2 linked regions of the Homo sapiens genome follow. The protein of the gene in region 1 purifies or fractionates together with the protein of each later gene. This does not show direct contact. Each region holds a gene or a part of one and is shown on either strand. Other genes may lie near its edges.

The links.
Region 2: the proteins of BMP6 (region 1) and ANKRD50 purify together in Homo sapiens (affinity purification with mass spectrometry; one large-scale study listed by BioGRID and IntAct). This does not show direct contact.

The regions. Positions count from the first base shown.
Region 1 is NC_000006.12:7,732,279-7,736,105, reverse strand, and holds part of BMP6 (bone morphogenetic protein 6 preproprotein), read right to left. Parts: intron 1-3,827. UniProt on the Homo sapiens protein: Growth factor of the TGF-beta superfamily that plays essential roles in many developmental processes including cartilage and bone formation.
Region 2 is NC_000004.12:124,702,437-124,706,263, reverse strand, and holds part of ANKRD50 (ankyrin repeat domain-containing protein 50), read left to right. Parts: intron 1-3,827.

The sequences.
Region 1 (3,827 bases):
TTTGTTGTCAACACATAGAAGCACTATAAAATAAATCCCACATTGTCATAGACTATCAAAATTACTTCCTTAGGGACCACTTTAGTAAAACCCCAGAAACAAAATATTCTTCAACTGAGGTATTTTATAATTCTTTCCCCGAACTCTGCGTATTTTGAATTTTTATACTTTCATTGACTTGTTTTTCCTTGTTTAATGTACAGCTTCTCCACAGAGGATTTGTAGGGCAGAGTAGTTTCACAACTCCTCGGCATGATACTATAGCGGTGGATAACATCATTACACATTTGTCCAAATCCACAGAATCTGCAACACTACGAGTGAACCGGGATGTAACTACAGACTTTAGGTGACAATGATGTGTCCATATAAGTTCATCAATTGCAACAAAGATACCAAATTCTGCTGGGTGATAATGGAGGAGTCTGTGCACCTGTGGGGCAGGGGGTACCTGGGAAATCTCTGCAAAATTTTGCTCAGTTTTGCTGTGAACCTCAAACTGATCTTAAAAAAAAACCCTCTCTTTCTAAAAAATGTACAGCTTCTCCGTTGTTAACTTATTCCGATATGGGAGTCTACAAATAAAATCTGAATAAAAATCAAAATTAAGTAAAAACTTTTAGTCCTTAATTTTGTAGTTTACAAAACTCAGTCTTTGGACTATTTAAATGTAATTCATAGATTCAAAAGGAGGGAGGGAAAATAACTGGTCTCAGAGAATAAGCAAGGCTAATATTATAAGAAATCTCCTGGCCTAATCAGCTCTTACCAATGATATGGTTCACTCATGCTCTGCTGAGACACAAATCAGAATTTTTTTTCCAGCCCATGTTCACGTACAGGAAACCAACAGGACTGTAAACACAGCAACAACAATCAACAAACGCAGACGTTCTGGACGGTGAAAGGGCAAGCGGCAGGAGAGTGATAATAAGGCCCGTGGCGGATATCGGAGGTCAGGGTGGAGCGGGCTCCGGGGCTCTGCCTCCGAGGGGCACTGTTTTCTGCGCCCTGTGAATCCACTCCACTCCACTTCCCCCCGTGGCCAGCTGAGCTCTTTGGTGATATGAAAACAATCTGAACATATAATCGGCACTGTGTGGCAAGGACATTTTAGGCCTAGGACAATCCTGACCTGGCCAGCAGGAGGATCAGTCATCAAGGGCGTATGCCTATAAATCTGAAAGTCAGGAAGGCTCTCCCACTTGGAACCAGAACCTCATCCTGCAAAAATGTTTGAAGGAGATTCTTCGACCCAGTCATCTGGGACTGTGCTTGAGATAACGAGACCGTGGGGACCCATCAAGGAATTAACTGATGTAATTTAGATATCATCTCTATTATGGTCCCAATCTCCTTAATAATGGAGATGGGAAGGGCAGGAAGAGAATCAGTGGATATCAGTGGAACAATGCCACTCAGAGCAACGTGGTTTTCAACTCAATTTCGGAGCAGAAAACAATTCTTTGGAGTCAACAGTCCTTTGGACATTTATAGATATACATAGCATTTTCTTTTCTAAAAGTAGAGTTCTTGGAGAAGATGCTATCCACTAAGAGAAAACCCCAACAATTCCAGATTTGGGTTTCCTCGGCTCTTCCAGGGTTGTGCTCTTGCCTGCTTTTGTAATTTCTCCTTCATTATCCACTCCAGCCTGGCCAACAGCCCTATTGCTCTGATGCACTAGGATCTCTGTGTGTTTTCATGGATTGTCCCTCAATCTTAAGAGGTAACAGCAGTAAAGAGAAAATGGTGGTGAAAACATCTAACAAATTTAACTGCGAACAAACAGATTAGATGATATGCGAGAACTTTTCAAGCTCTAAATTCTATGATCTATGGCGAACATACATTCACCAGTTATCCCAAACTCATTTAACCAATAAACCCCAAATGGGTTTTCTGTTGCTGGGGCATACGTGTCCCCAGAAAAACCATGTTAGGGATGGTAGCTGTGTTCCCAGCCTGGCTTCAGACCCTTAACTTTATGCATAGGGTGCTGAAATACTACATATTCACATTGGAAAAAAAGTATAGACAACAAAATCTTCAAAACACTAGTGACTGAACACAAAATCTGATAAATTTCAGTGACCCACAATGTGTTACTGATTTCTAATGCTTGTAGTAAAAGGTGAACAGGGGGAATGCAGGTTCTGAGAATTTCTGGTACTCTCGAAACTTCAGAGGTTAATGGCACTGAAAAATTAGAGTTAACTCTAATTTTCACCGAAGTGGTGATGGCTTTCCTTCCCCTTCATACAACTATCACCACTTTCATATATTCCAGGAGAGACTAGTGCCGTTTTCCGACTCACACGTTTCCAGTGGGTAAAAGCTGGATCAGAGATGGGAGTGAGGGTGTTGAAGAGAAGGTAAGGGTATGATCAGAAAAGAAAGTGTATTTGAATAAAGTTAACTCCGCTGTCGTGATGAAAACAGGGAAATAAGAACAACATAATGCACTGGTTCCTTGCGGGGAACACAAGAGAAGATGCCAGCTATGCCCTATATCTGCCCCCCAGGTGACACCCTGCGGCTGGAGCAGCCCAGCTGCTGGGCACATGGCTGGGTTATGCTGTGGCCTAGGGAGGGGGGGACAGGATGGTTAATGTGTAACAGCTGTTTACGTGAATGGGGCCTTGGTAAATTGTCTATTCCTATCTTAGGGAGTTTCTGCGGTGATTTCTACTCCTTTTACTCATATATTTATGAAAACTAGTGAAAAACAAAATTGTCTAATTAAAATATTGTCTACTTTTCTTCCCACTACTGGAAGCACCAAAGATGGCAAAATGACTAAAATTCTGAACAGAAGAGGAAGAAAAATAGAATAAAGATCGAAGTAGAAAAATTAAAACTGTAACGACGTTGTGCTAAGTTAAACAATAGTCATTCCTGGCCGGACGCAGTGGCGTGAGCCTGTAATCCCAGCACTTTGGGTGGCCAAGGCAGGCAGATCACTTGATGTCAGGAGTTTGAGACTAGCCTGGCCAACATGGTGAAACCCCAGCTCCACTAAAAATACAAAAAAAAAATATTAGCCAGGTGTGGTGGCGGAGACCTGTAATCCCAGCTACTCTGGAGGCTGACACAGGAGAATTGATTGAACCCAGGAGACGGAGAGGTTGCAGTGAGCCGAGATCTCGCCACTGCACTCCAGCCTGGGTGACAGAAAAAGATACTGTCTTAAAAAAAAAAAAAAATCATTCCCTAGAATAGTTCATTTTTGATATAAGATGGGAAGCAGAAAGTGAAGGATTGGTTTGTGAAAAAGTTACAGAAAGCTGCTTCATGATGCAAGACATTGTACCCTCTTCATTTTCCTTGTCTAACTCACCTTCGTAAATAGGAGTGAGGCAAAGACAGCAGAGCTGCTATCTTTTAGTTTGCTACGTTTGATATACTACGTTTGATATACTACATTTGATAGCCAGTATTTAGCCAGTATTCATAGTCAAGTAAAATATCAATTTGAAATCCAACATATAAAGTAGTTACTCTCTGAAGACACAGAGAGGCAACAAATTATATGCTAAAGCAAGCACTGAGCATTGTTTTTGTATTTAAACAGATTCTTATCCCAGGGAAGCCCTCCTCCAAGCTGATCAGAGGTAAGCTCTCAAATAGAGGAACTAACCATGATTCAGCACATTTAAAAAGGATTTATACCCATTCTTAGAAGGACACCCAGAGGAAACACCATCTGAGGTCTGAACAATAGTATCTGCTTGCCCTTTGATCTTAGTTTAAGAACACTTTGTACAACTTTTTTTTGTTGAAATGCCACTGAATTTCAAATTTACTCTTTGTAATCTCTTTAGAAG
Region 2 (3,827 bases), on another chromosome or scaffold:
GTTCTCCGTTTGAAGCATAGTTCATTTGCGTTATTTATTAAGAACCTTCTGTGTGTTAGGTAGAGTTCAGCTGGAGATAAATCAGGGAATAGAACAGACAGAATTCTGCCTTCATGGAACTCAAATTCTAACATTAATATTTATCTTATTCATATAGAGAGAAATAACCATCAGAGTAAATACTTGTTACAGTGTTCATGAAACACATGAACATTTAAACATTAATAGAATTTTGTGATCTGCTAAAGGGAATGATATGAAGACACATTGCTATCTTTTTTTCATTTTTATTTTTCGTATCTGGTTAAAGTACAATGCTATTGTTAATTTCTTTACAATATTTTATTTCCTCATTTCTGAAACTAAGTTGATGTTTATATTTTTACTTACTTTGAGAGCCAAAGGCTGATTTCTTTAATTCTGCCTCCCACTTTAGGCCTTTAGTGCAAAACTTTGTATATTTTACATTGACTGTGTCTTTTCTAGAGTTAGTGTTAGAGGTGGACTCCTAGTAGTCCTATAATTATAAAACAAATTCCAATTATTTTTGACAAAAAACTCAAGCAACTAAGTTAGTGAGGGGTGGAGGGTGGTAGCATTAGGTTTTGTGGCTGGTTTAGAAGATAGCTGTTTCAATCAACCAGAAACACCTTTCTGGACTTTGAACAGAAATCGTTTTGGAGATTTAAAAGGATATGGTGTTGGGAAATACAAATTTTTGTTCTTAGTGTATGTCATTACCTCACTTTTATTTCTTGTTAACAGTCTGCAGGACCAGATATGTGATGTCAGTTTTCCTATGTTGGGTAGAAATATTTTGTTCTGTGTAATGTTAATAGGAAAAATTAAATATCTTCAGGGGTAACACGGGTTAAGTGTAAATGGAGTAAAATTGCAATAAAGAATTAAAGATGAATAACTCTAAGTTTTGAGAGTTTAATAGAAAATTTGTGCTAATGGTGAAAGGCAGTATGCCTTGTTTGAAAAAGAGTGCAAACTGGGAGACCAAATACTGACATTTGTTTTGTGTGTCAAATGGGAATCATTGAATGTTTGAATAATCCTTCTAATCTTATCTCCTCCAGGAGCATTTATGGATCTTCACTTATATCTGTTTAGGTTTGTAGCTTGCGTTGCAGTTTTTTTGTTTGTTTGTTTGTTTGTTTTTTTGAGATGGAGTCTTGCTCTGTTACCCAGGCTGGAGTGCAGTGGCGTGATCTTGGCTCACTACAAGCTCCGCCTCTCGGGTTCACGCCATTCTCCTGCCTCAGCCTCCCAAGTAGCTGGAACTATAGGCACCCACCACCACACCCAGCCAATGTTTTGTATTTTTAGTAGAGGCAGGGTTTCACCATGTTAGCCAAGATGGTCTTGATTTCCTGACCTCGTGATCCACCCACCTCGGCCTCCCAGAGTGCTGGGATTACAGGCGTGAGCCACTGCGCCCAGCCGTGTTGTAGTTATTTATGTATATATCTTTTGTTATCTTCCCTATTAGGCATATGCTTCTTCATAACGTTATTCATGACTGATGAATTTTTTATATTTACCATGGTGCTTTGTATATAGCACTTTGCATATAATAATTGTTAAATGACTGTCTTTTGAATGAGTGCATAATGCTACTTGCCTATCTAGAATATGTGTGAACCTAATTGAAAGAAGGCTGAAGCTCTTGAATAAGAAAGGAAATTGAAATGTTATGTGATTTAGGTCAGTTTTAAATGCAGACCAGACTGGTATAGTGATTATTAATTTGTTAACCTGCTGTCTGTTCTTTACCATGTATTAATATGGCATTAGTCCAGATAGTTTTAAGTGGCCAGATATCTATCTCCTGTCTCAACTGGCTCCAAGGATTTTTGGCACTCAACAAAGAGGCGAAGAACAGAAGGGGGTTGGAATGTGTGCCTCCTTCTTACCCTCACTTGTATGTTTTCAAGGCAAAATATATTACATTCGTAATCAATCTTGTATAACTAGTGCTATTTAAAATAACTGTCATTATCTATTCTTAAGTATTGTCAAATTAAAAGATTATTCTAAAGTCCCATTACTATTCAAGTTTTAAATAAAATAAGTGAATCAATATAATTTCATAATCAAAACTTTACATGTTTGTCTTTTAGTCTAAAGATCATCACCTTTCACTGAATGGTCTATTGTTTCCAACTTTTAACTATGTCCTTTCTACTTTAAGATACAAACTTCTGTTTATTCAAATCTTCCCACTTTCCCTTCTGAAAATCTTTTCTTTTTACCCTAGCTTGTCTGTTCCTTTTATATTTCAATCTAAGTGCTGCTTCCTTTGGTTCCTGGTACTCTTTATCATTTGCTGAACCAGTCCTCAACCTCTAATCACTTCTGCTCTAATGACATAACATATTGCTCCTGTTTGCATACTTAGAACTTTGAAGTTAGCCACATTCTTAGTTCTGTTCTGCAGTCCAATTTATTGTTTGATAACTCAGATTCCTTTTAGACCAGAGAGAGTGAAGTGGTGCTCTACAAGTTGAGTATGGGATGTTTTTACCCCAATGCAGCAAATTTCATATACATATCCAGATTTTTGCTTTTTCTTGAAAAAAAAAAAAACCTGGAAATTTTGACAGTACTTGGTTCTCATTCCTTTGAGGCAGTAATCTTACAGACTTGAGTCAGCTGCTGTCTTTATATAAGCCCTGCATGCTCTAATTTGGTTCAGCCTTCACCATGCTCTATTATTCTATAGCAGGACCAGTTCATGTATTTACATGTGCCAGCTTGGCTCCTATAGTCATTTTCAAGGACAAATATGTTTTCTATTCCTCTGAAAAAAATGCTGCATTTTTTATCACTCCCAGAATTTGCTCTCATACTGTCTAGAGTTCGTATGTGCAAGCGCTGCTTCCTCTTCCGTATCAGTTTCCCTTCCTCTTCCCCATCAGTTTCTTCCTAGCTTGCTGAAATCTAACGTTCATCTCTACACATTTACAGAAAGATGTTTATGCATGATTGCCTGTGAACGTACTGCTCAATTTGCCTTTAGGCTTTAAATGATGTATTTTAGGTATTTTTTTTCAGTATTTGTACTTTTTTCTTTCAGAATCTCGCACTGACTCCATTCTTTGGTGGACCTTCCTCTGGGTCCTCTCTGGGTGTTTGCCCCACAAGCTTAGATCTTCTCTCTTTACACATATGCCTTCAATTATTTTATTTACTTACATGGCTACCAATGCATAGATAAAGCTGTTGACGCAGATTTGATTGCTATCTTATTAGCAATCAAATCTGCATCAACAGCCTTATCATTCTGATCAATATGTATCCTTTCACTTGGTAGTCCCTCACTAACCTATGTTTAAACTAACTTCTCTTGAAGCATTTCTATTCATTGATGATTCATTTATTTCTTAATCAAGTATTCAGTGTCAACTATGTGTTAGATGTGTACTAAGTATTAGGGCTAAAGTATTGAGCCAAGCAGAACACTAAGTTAAGTGAGGTAAAATACATTGAACAAATAGTCACAAGAATACATGTTTAGAACACACCTTTGATAAGTGCTAAGAAGGAAGAAACAGGATGATAAAGCATATAATAGGAAGCTTGATTATTATCTACAAGTCTGGGAAAACTGACTCCTTATCTAGGTTCTATAATTATTCTTAGTTCATAGGCCGTTTTCTACTAAACCATGTGATCTTAGGATCATCAATATTAGCATCACCTGGGAGCTTGTTAGAAATGCAGACTCTCAGGTCTAGGGAATCAGAATCTGCCCTTTAAAGAGATCCCTAAGTGAATCCTGTGTGCATTAGAGTACTTTGAGAAGCACTGTCCTAGGC